Homo sapiens: one gene and its partner. The protein of the gene in region 2 interacts with the protein of the main gene of each other region in a biochemical or structural test. Each region holds a gene or a part of one and is shown on either strand. Other genes may lie near its edges.

Region 1 (7,041 bases), on a different chromosome or scaffold from region 2:
ATTACAGGCATAAGCCACCGCGCCCTGCTGACCCTGTCTCTTTAAAAACAAATGCAAATGTTATTAGCAATGTTTTTCCCCTACGAATTGCCTTTTGCTCATTTTGCAAAAGATCTTGCTATGATTCAGATCACTAATCCTTAGTCATTGGCTTCTGGTTAGGCCTGGTTTCTTATCTTAATCTTGTTTATATTTGCCATATCTGAGCTTTGGGGGAGTTTTGTTTACATTAATATAATTAAATCTCATCTTTTGAATTCCTTATATGTTCTTATAATTTTCATTTTTTACATTTAATTATTTACCCATTTAGAATTCATTTTTGTGTATAGGAAAGTTGAAAGGCCAGGCACGGTGGCTCACATCTGTAATCCCAGCACTTTGGGAGGCTGAGGTGGGTGGATCACCAGGTCAGGAGTTCAAGACCAGCCTGACCAACATGGTGAAACCCCGTCTCTACTAAAATTACAAAAATTAGCCGGGTGTGGTGGTGTGCGCTTGCAATCCCAGCTACTCAGGAGGCTGAGGCAGGAGAATTGCTTGAACCTGGCAGGTGGAGGCTGCAGTGAGCCGAGATTGCACCACTGCACTCCAGCCTGGGCAACAATAGTGAAACTCCGTCTCAAAAAAAAAAAAAAAGTTGAAACCTAAACTGCTTTTGTGTCTATACTATATATTTTTTGTTTGTTTGTTTTGAGATGGAGTCTCACTCCATCACTCAGGTTGGAGTGCAGTGGCACTATCTCAGCTCACTGCAACCTCCGCCTCCTGGGTTCAAGTGACTCTCCTGCCTCAGCCTCCCGTGTAGCTGGGATTACAGGCGTGCGCTACTACACCCGGCTCATTTTTGTATTTTTAGTAGATATGGGTGGCCAGGCTGGTCTCAAACTCCTGACCTGAAGTGATCCACCTGCCTCGGCCTCCCAAAGTGCTGGGATTACAGGCGTGAGCCACCACACCTGGCCTGTGTCTATATGTTTTAACATTAACAGTCCTGACTCGTACTTGGCCCATACTTAACATAACATGATATTTATTGATGAATTAAAAGTGACTTCCTAAAGAAAGAATCCAACTTTTACTTCTTTCTCTGTAAGACTTTATAAGTCAAATCCTAACACTGCAAGTAACAACAATCCTGCACAACTCAAAAATTGTAAACTGAAGTCAATAATCCATTCCTTTTAAGCAATACTTTATATGATAAAAATACACTATATCATGTGAATTATACCTAAATAAAACTGTTCTTTAAAAAACCTATTATACCCAAGGCAATTAAACCTTATCCTTACATTTAAATTTGGTCTAAGAAGCTCTTATAATAAATATAATGCTATGATGTAAAAAAAAAAAAATTAACCAAATGTTTAAAACTATTAAGTCTGCAATTTATAACTTGGAAGCCATTAAGTCAGTAGTTCAAGAAATCAAAAGTCCTGGGCTGAGCGCGGTGGCTCATGCCTGTAATCCCAGTACTTTGGGAGGCCAAGGCTGGCAGATCAGGAGGCGGGCAAACTGCTGAGGTCAGGAGTTCGAGACCAGCCTGGCCAACATGGTGAAACCCCATCTCTGCTACAAATACAAAAATAAGCCGGGTGTGGTGGCAGAAGCCTATAGTCCCAGCTACTCAGAAGGCTGAAACAGAAGAATCGCTTGAACCCAGGAGGCGAAAATTGTAGTGAGTGGAGATCACGCCACTCACTCCAGCCTGGGCGACAGAGCAAGACTCTGTCTAAAAAAAAAAAAAAAAAAAAAAAAAAAAAAGAATTCAAAAGTACATAGTCCCCTCGTCTGAGGATGCTTTTACCTAGGTATCAACTGGCCTAGAACTTATATTTAAACATCCCTTGATTAAACAATTCAGAATCCAGTTTTTGACAAGAGAAAGAAACTTATCCATCTAATTTTCCAGAGCAAGGGCAATTTTATTATTATCATAGTACATTTGATTATTTTTTCATTTTTTAAAAATGGATTATTTAATGCATCCTCTGAATTTGATCAGTTAGCCAATATATGATCTTATTAACTTCAGTGAATAAGATGTATTGAATTCTTAATTAAGTACTATACATTGTTCCTCCTATCAGGGTAAACTCAAAGAACTTACATTTTAGAGGGAGAGATACATAAGTAAACAAATATATTTTTTTTTAATTTTTATTTTTTGAGACAGAGTCTCACTCTTGTCACCCAGGCTGTAGTGCAGGGGCACGATCTCGGCTCACTGCAACCTCTGCCTCCTGGGTTCAAGTGACTCTCCTGCCTTAGCCTCCCAAGTAGCTGGGACTACAGGCACACACCACCATGCCCGGTTAATTTTCTTGTATTTTCAGTAGAGATGAGGTTTCACCATGTTGGACAGGCTGGTCTCAAACTCCTGATGATCTCTGGTGACCTGCCCGCCTCGGCCTCCCAAAGTGCTGGGATTACAGGCGTGAGCCACCACGCCCAGCCAACAAATACATTTAAAAATAATGTAAAAAAACAGTAAGTGGGGTGCAATGGCTCACACCTGTAATCCCAACACTAGGAGGCCGAGGCAGGAGGATCACTTGAGGACAGGAGTTTGGGACCAGCCTGGGCACCATAGGTAGACCCCGTCTCTACAAAAAAAAAGAAAAAAAAAAGAAAAAGAAAAAGAAAAAAAAGAAACAATATCGGTATAAAGAATAAAGAAGGGTAAAGGATTAGAGAATAAATAAGACTTCTTTCTGGGGAAGAGATGTGGGAAGAAACACGTCAGGAAGGCAGCCATGCAAAGATGCTGGAGAATAGTATTCCAAGCAGACGGATCAGCAAGTGCAAAAGGCCCTGAGCCAGGTGTGCAAGCTCGTGTCCAAAGAACAGAAAGAAGGTCAAAAGCACTGTAAACACTGGGAAGGATAAAAAACGATAAACGTGAGGCCAGCATTGTGCCAGTAACCCAGAAATACATATTTCTCTGAACTTGAATCCTTCTAAAACAGCTAAAAATAAAAAGACATATTTTAAAAGTCACATCAAAGAAGTGACTTAGAATAGATGCTTTTGTTTAAGTGAGCTCTTCTGAACCTCCTGGAAAATCAAGCAATCTGGCTTGAAGAGGAAGTTACGAGGTTAATTTTTGTTGTTGTTTTGTCTCCAACCCTCCTCAACTGTATTTTTGGAATAGAAAATCATTTCCATAAAAGAAAATAATTTTAAAAGGATGGAGGGAACAACCCCTGCATTCTTTTTAATTATTCTTCAATGTAATAATATGTAAATGACTGCCCCACATTTTAAAGTGGTTACGTTTTCTTACCTCCAACATGGCAACTAACTCTGATTTGGAAATGCCAATTCGGTCTCGGTCACAACTGTCTACTACATAAATGACTGCATCTGTGTTTGAATAGTAACATCTCCAGTATGGCCTAGAGAAAATTTAAAAGGGGAGAACATATTGTTATTGTTTTAAGGAAGAAACTGACATATCAATTGCCAATTCTGTCCCACACATGTTAGAATCAATGCCTTAATGATTCACTGTTTCTGGTGGATATATGTACCATATCCCTCAGATGTGATGGAGTCAAAAGAATGTTGATAAACATTGGCTGGGCACGGTGGCTCACATCTGTAATCCCAGCATTTTAGGAGGCTGAGGAGGGCAGATCAACTGAGGTCGGGAGTTCGAGACCAGCCTGACCAACATGGAGAAACCCCATCTCTACTAAAAATACAAAATTAGCTGGACATGGTGGCAGGTGCCTGTAATCCCAGCTACTCGGGAGGCTGAGGCAGGAAAATCACTTCAACCAGGAAGGCAGAGGTTCCAGTGAGCTGAGATGGTGCCATTGCACTCCAGCCTGGGCAACAAGAGTGAAACTCTGTCTCAAAAAAAAAAAAAAAAAAAAAAAAAAGAATGTTGATAAACATTGACTCACAGGACCAGGGAGTTTCCAAATGAATTCATTCAGACTTCAGGCTGACAAAATTTATTTATAATCTATGAAATCACTAAATATACTGATAGAAAAGTTGTACACAGACCTGATCATTACATCTTCTTAAACAAATCTTTAACTAGGCACCCCTTAAGAGGAATAAACTTTTTAAACGTGATTTTATTTAACAGTCATGAAATTAATCACTGACATCAAGCAGTAGAAATGGCTAAAATTATAAATAAACTCAAAAGTGATTCAATGGAGTCTCTCTGAGCCTACTCTGGCTTGGGAGGCTGCACAATTTAAAAAAAAAGAAACGTGATTCAAGAAATGAGTTAAAAGAAGTCAGAATGTTTGGAGAATGCATTACTAATCTTTTAAGATGGTACTATCGTGACCAACTACTGACGGTCATCAAACATTCACTGTTGCCATGTCAAGCCCAAAATGCTAAGCAGAAGACCTGAACTTCAGAAGGCATTTATTTTTTATTTATTCATTTATTTTTTTTGAGACAGAGTCTTGCTCTGTAGCCCAGGCTGGAGTGCAGTTGCGCGATCTCAGCTCACTGCAACCTCCAGCTCCCAAGTCCTGGTACAAGCAATTCTCCTGCCTCAGCCTCCCAGGTAGCTGGAATTATAGGCACGCACCACCATGCCCAGCTAATTTTTGTATTTTTAGTAGAGACGAGGTTTCACCATGTTGGTCAGGCTGGTCTCCAACTCCTGACCTGATGATCCGCCCACCTCGGCCTCCCAAAGTGCTGGGATTACAGGCGTGAGCTACCATGCCCGGCCAATGGCATTTATTTTTATATTAGCCCTAAATGGTATGCCTGCAAGGTACTTTAATGAATTCCAAAACAATGTGTTTCAGAGAGGAGAGACTGACAAGAACTAAATGGAGGGTCCTTTCTAATTGAGAATAGCTGAAGTAATAAGGTCTTGAGATTTTCGTGAAAAGATTTTCATTAAACAGGTATCTGGAAAACTGGGCTTCCTTAAGTTTTAACTCAATGGATGCTCTAAGGAAATAGTTCCCAATTTTACCTCATTTTAAACTAGGTGGCTCCATTTAAATTACAATAGAACACATATTCGGGTTTACTGATTTTAACCCTTAAAAGAATCAATAAATGTCAAATACTACCAAATAACCTGGTCTTTGTACCATACCTGATACTTGTCTGTCCTCCTAAATCCCAGACTTGGAATTTAAGGTTTTTGTACGTCACCGTCTCTACATTAAATCCAATGGCTGGAAGAGAAATCAAATCAGTGGTATGTGTAGACTAATACATTCCACCTTCAAAATATCCTATCTAATTGAGTTACAGCAATTAATGGTAACTGTTATTAGAGTTTAAAATATATATATATATAATTTGTCTTAGGATTCGAGTTAAAAAGAAATGGTAATTGTTGAATCACATTATTGGTTGAGATTTTATACCATTTAAGACGAAATAGTATGCTCTGCTCCCCCACACATGTGCAGGTGTGTGCACAAAACATCAATTAGCAAGATCAATACCATCTTCAGGATATTTTTTAAAAGCCAGCAGTTCTGCAAATAAAGTATATAATTTTAGCTCAAATAAATTAAAAAAAGAATTTAAAAAAGAAATAAAAAGGAAAACATAATTTTTAGCTCAATGGAAATCCTATTATATTAAACTCCCCTCATAATAGAGTAGTTAAAAGTGTTCGAAAGCTGTATTTAGAAAGTACAGTTGTGGATGTACTATAAAAAGCAGAATTTTGGCTGGCAGCAAATAAACAGACCAAAAGAAAAAAAGCTAAACTTCAGTTCTAAACTACAGCATGGACACAGCCATGGCTGCAGCTTTCAATCTCACAGCCCATCTGCAGACATCCTCCAGAACTCACTTGTAATAAGGTCATGGCTGGGTGGTCAAAGGGCAGGTGTCCCATCCCTTTTCTCTGCCATCCTTCTTAGGTGAAAAATAGGTAAAAAATAACTTCCATGGCTGGGTGCGGTGGCTCACACCTGTAATCCCAGCACTTTGGGAGGCCAAGGCGGGTGGATCACCTGAGGTCAGGAGTTCGAGACCAGCCTAGCCAACACTGTGAAACCCCATCTCTTCTAAAAATACAAAAATTAGCCGGGTGTGGTGGCACATGCCTGTAATCCCAGCCACTCTGGAGGCTGATGCATGAGAATCGCTTGAACCTGGGAGGCACAGGTTGCAGTGAGCCGAGATCTTGCCACTGCACTTCAGCCTGGGCAATAGAGTGAGACTCTGTCTCAAAAAAATAAATAAATAAAAAATAACTTCCAGGTATAACTGGACAATTAGCTTTTGTTTTATATTTAAGTCTGCAGTGGTAAGTGATACCTTTGAGTATTTGGCAAGTATGTCTATTACAATTAAAAAATAACAATACTATGACAAATTTGAGCAAAAAACTAAAATGCAAGTTCATGATGTCTCCCTTAGAATTAGGTAGGAGTGTAATCACAATGTTCACCAACAGTAAAAAACATCGTTTATATGTGCAAGACAAGAGAATGGTGTAGACTGGGTGCAGTGGCTCATGCCTGTAATCCCAACACTTTGGGAGGCTGAGGTGGGAAGATCGCTTGAGCCCAGGAGGTAGAGGTAGAGGTAGACGCTGCAGTGAGCTATGAATGTGCCACTGCACTCCAGCCTGGGCAAAAAAGCAAGACACTGTCTCAACAAAGAGTGTGGTGTAAAGCAGCACTCACTGAAACTCCAAACTATCCACTGTGCTGCTCTGTGCACTGCAGGAGATGCCCAGACAGAGATGGGTGATTTTGAGAAGCAAAAACTAAGGGCACTAAAATTTACTGAAGGTAGCAAAAAGGAATAACAGACATTACAGGGTTCAAAACGCTCTTCTTTCTTAGAGGCTAGCCTCTTTCGTTTTAGTCCATAAATTTAAACAGTAACAATATAGAAATACCCTGAGTGACAGACTAACATTAGAGGCATAATTTAAAAAATCTTGAGCAAACTGTATGAACTCTTTAATTTAAATGTACTACTCTTCTCTAAGTAAATTCAAGGCAACAAATGAAAAAAGTATAAATAACAACAGTATTCTCATATAGTCAGTAAGACTGTTGGAGAATATTTTTG
Region 2 (4,350 bases):
GAATCTTTTGAGGGTGGGGCCTCAGATGTGCCTGGTCACGTCTCCTGATGCTGGGTTGGCTGTGCTGCAGAATCACTGCTGCATGGACAAGCTTTCTTTAAAGAACTAAACGTCAGAAATGGGGAGCAATCAATCAGCAAATAGATGGTATAATTTGGTTCCCCATAACCAATAACAGAGCTTCTCTGAAGGGCAAAAATGCTTTTCTTTCCTTTTCAGCACATGTGACTGCAGCTTGCATTCTGTTAAAGGTTAGGGCCCCATTCACACTCCAGAAGCTCCTCTGGGTCATACAGCCTTTGGATACAGACTTTGACCAAAGTGACACAGTCCTCCCCTCCACAGCTCTCCCCTCCTCAGTCCCTCTTCAGAACCACTGCAATTCTTGGGGGGGGTAGAATGGGGCTGTTGGCTTCATTAAATTACGTATATTTATTCACCCAAATCCAGTCTGGGAAGGTTCTTTCTGAAAGAAAGACAAACATTCTCTAGCCCTTGAGGTTGGCCTTGGAGTGTTAAATATGAGACACAAAATACCAGATTTAATGAGTCAAAGAAATACTGACACACCAAACTAGTAAAATCCATTGTAGTTGCATCTGGATTGAAGAGCTTTAATCAAAAAGTGTATTGCACCACAGATGAATTTGCTACAGCAGTTTTCAAGAATACAATCCCTATTTACAACATGGAAGGAGAGCTCAAGATCCATCGCTCGTATAAAGGGCTATAGATACCGTCGCTAACACAGAAAGTTTTATACAAGTCAAAGTGCATTAAATCACTTAGAATATTTATTCCACTCTTCCTCTTAAAGCTGAAGGAAATTCAACATGCAGGAGGAAAGCCTAGTCAGTGAAGCCTCCCTAAAGTGAGTACAGACCTAGGAACGGGCCCCACAGCTACACCTGAAACTGCCGAGGAGTGGGGCCTGGGGTGCGTGTGGGACCAGTTCAATGGCTGGAGAAGCCACGGAGGCAGCGGATGGGCTTCTGTGGAAATGTAGCTGCCTTTGGCTGGCTGTGAGCTACCCAGTCTTAGAGATTCTTTCCTGGAACAGTTGAAAAAGGAAATCCTACTTTGAAAAAAGGCTACCTCTTACCCATCAAACTTGCAGAACAGAAGAGACTCCTGTTTCGTGTTCCCACCAGGTAAATGGAAATTCGTGTTCTAAACAAGGGATAACTGTCTGCAAGGAGGAGCCAGAGGAGGAGGTTAGTCACTGGAGAAGCGGCCTCTGGAAGGCAGAGAGCCTGAGCTGGGACTAAGGAGATGCTGCCCTGACTTGGTTCTTCATGGAAATTTCGTTAGGTTAACGTTGCAAATGCGTGTTTTTCTGTGACACATTTTATATACCTATTTTGGCCCTAAGCATGATTGAGAAATACAACTTTCCATCACTGGATAATGGATAATAAATTTAGAGGCTCCAGTTATTAATTTAGTTTTTTATTTAACCAGTGAAACTTTCATCAAACAATAAACGGTTTCCTTTTAGATTCAATATTGTGGCTTTTCCAGAACCAGCATGTTCCCTTTCCTCAGTAAACGAGGAATCCATAAAACAAGTTTTTGTTGGTTACTACCAGAGTCATGTGCATGCTACAAGTGCTGCAGCCAGCTGGGCGCCGTCTGGGTGTAGTGTCATTTTAAGTATTTGGGGTGGGATGAGGGAGAGAGAGCAGCTCCACAGACAAGGCAGACTGCCCCAGTGTCTCCATCGAGGCTGGGGGACAGCTGCTGCCCCCACTGGAGACAGCGGACTGTCCTTCAGTAGAAGACAGGTGGTCTGCATCGCCCAGCGGCAGCGCAGCACAGAATCAAGACAAAGCACACGAGATCCCACTGCACTTCAGAGGGAGCAGTGCCAGAGTGCGAGTGAGAAGACAAAGGAACAGGAATCCTAGTTTTAGGAAGAATTTCCTCTGGACGCTCTGATTTTAAGAACACCAGTTAAATGGATTTTATAGTACAGAAGACATGTTTATAGTAGTGAAGAACTTCAGCTATAAAAAATAGTTTAAAATGGTTTACCAGCAACCTATCCAAGACAAGTACATTCATTAAAAAGGCAATTGAGTGTATTTGGTACTAAGGGTCTTTTCATATATTTGCTAGTTTTCTTAAGTAAAGTGGAGATACTGTCAGAAAGGTGCATTTTCTCATTCATCCACACCGACCCTTAAAGATGGATCCTCTAAAGTTCTAGGTGGTTTGAGAGACAGGGTGAAAGAATATTTTCTTGAGAGGAAGGGATAAAAAGCTTCTAACTCATCTGAATTTTTAAAAGCCACTCCCATAGAGTTCCCATGGAGTTGGCTGTTCCTGGCAGAGGCAGGTGGGTTTGGCCTGCTGGGCACCATCTCAAAGGGCCGTCTCTACCTCCAGTAGCAGCGCTACATGGTGACTCAGGTGTGCCTGCCAGATGCTGATGGCTTCAGCTGTAAGTGCTACCGTGAAGTTAGAGGATTCAGGTGCAGATGGGGTGCTGGCTGGAGCTGGGATATTAGCAGCACTGTGGAAATCTGGGTAGTGCCAGGACCCTCCTGTTTGGTGACCAGAATGACAGGATCAGCTACCCCCTGAGGTTCAGGTCAGCCTGCAGGGAAGTGGGCCTTAGTCTTGTAAACAATGTTTAGACACTTGTACAAAATACTGCAGTTACAGTGATTAAAAACCCACCCAGACTGGTGTGTCAGTGTTCTTTTCACAGAAAAAGTGTCAACCCACGGAGCTCCATCCTTGGGTAGTCCCCTCTAGGACCATGGTATCCGAGGGTTTGAGATAGACGGCCGGATGCTGCCCTTGGGAGCTGGTTTGGACCCAAACCATGACATCTGCATTTGAAACAGAAAAGGCTTCTGAGATGCAAATCAGGACTTGGTGCCAGGGAAACTGAACCGCCCCTCCCCTCCCGTGAGCCTGTCACTCCTGCCCCCCACACATCCTGCCTCTGGCTCTGAGCAGAGCAAGAAGATGGTGCCAGTAACCAGTCTGCAGGCCCGTGCTCAGTACAGGAGGGAAATGAGAGAAAAACACTGAGTTGACAGGAACAAGGTAGTGGAACTGCAGGTATTTTTTCCTATTAGAGCATTTATGCAGACGCTTTTGGAATTTGAGTGCCGAGCCAGACCTGGGGCTCTCGATAAAGCGCTATCAATGAAAATGCTTTGAAAAATACGTGGCCTGTTGGTCAAGTACAGCACAGACATTTGGGCACAAAGGATGTCATCGCTAAAAAGTGCTTGGATCAAGTTCATCCAAAAGCAGCCAAGCTGATCATGCAGCTGTGCTGGTGCCTACACTCGGGTGTGGGTCTAAGGGGTCTTACACTGCTACTGCTGGGATAACTGACAACGTATCTTGGAAGCTGGAACAGTAGACCAGAGAACCCTACCTTATATTCCAGAGTTTCCTTGAGCATGTTCTCCTCCTCTTGGGAAAAGTTCAGCAACACTGACACAGCTTTTATAAGATGAAAAGCCTGAAACACAGTAAGTTTTGCTGCCATAGGCCTTGGTGAAGGTGAGGCGGGGTGGGGTCGGGGGAGCTACGTGGCATTTCCTGCTTGCTTTGGTTAGCAGGACCAGGTGGTGGGTGACGCTCTGGCACTCTGAAGTTTGGCAGCAATGATAGGTTCTTTCTTCCCCTGCATCCTCGGGGGCCTGGCAGGCTTAAGGGAACTGCCCCAGCAGCTACCCTACCCTTTGGCAGGACCCAGGAGCGATGGGTGGATTCCGTTCCCGGCTTCCGGCCTCTGGCCTCAGCACCCAGGCCAGGATTTAGAAGTGGAGCCTATGTCTCCCACCAGGAGCCAGTTCCTGCACGGCCTCTCCCGCCAGCCGCTCACTCCGCAGGCCAACGCCAGCAGGAGAAATGACTGGGTGACCACAAGGGCGTCAAACCAGGATGTACGAGGAAAAGAGAGAAAGGGGCTGGGCAGGGGTCCCTGCAGGACAGACTGTAGGGCGGGGCCTCAATACCCAAAAGACACCTCAAAAGCCCTTTACCTCGGATTCGCGACAAGACATGAATTTTAAAACCACATGTTTAAGGTACTCAAAGTTGATCTCGCGGGCATCTGTCAGGTCAGTGTTATTCGTGACGGAAGGCGCCATGTTTGCCATCTCAGGTCCAGGTTTCTCCCGGACTTCGAAGAGCTCATTATCGGGTCTGATTTTCTGAAAAACCAGTGGGAAAGATGCTACACCGAACCCTCTGAGACAGGTGGAAAAAATCACACGGGAGGTTCACCTGGTCCAAACTATGATCACTATCGTAGGGCAAAAAGGGCCCCACCTGGGAAGGAAGCACCTCCAGGTAGGCTTGAGGAGGGAGTGACATCGTTTG

What was found. Proteins that work in one complex are often made in the same cells at the same time.
Region 1: the proteins of GOLGA1 (region 2) and ARL1 form a complex in vitro, tested with the Homo sapiens proteins (one study listed by BioGRID).

What each region holds. Positions count from the first base shown.
Region 1 is NC_000012.12:101,397,773-101,404,813, forward strand, and holds part of ARL1 (ADP-ribosylation factor-like protein 1), read right to left. Parts: intron 5,175-7,041; coding exon 5,093-5,174; intron 3,402-5,092; coding exon 3,290-3,401; intron 1-3,289. UniProt on the Homo sapiens protein: GTP-binding protein that recruits several effectors, such as golgins, arfaptins and Arf-GEFs to the trans-Golgi network, and modulates their functions at the Golgi complex.
Region 2 is NC_000009.12:124,877,774-124,882,123, forward strand, and holds the end of GOLGA1 (golgin subfamily A member 1), read right to left. Parts: intron 4,182-4,350; coding exon 4,011-4,181; intron 3,485-4,010; coding exon 3,398-3,484; intron 2,838-3,397; coding exon 2,757-2,837; 3' UTR 502-2,756; downstream 1-501. UniProt on the Homo sapiens protein: Involved in vesicular trafficking at the Golgi apparatus level. Involved in endosome-to-Golgi trafficking. Mechanistically, captures transport vesicles arriving from endosomes via the protein TBC1D23.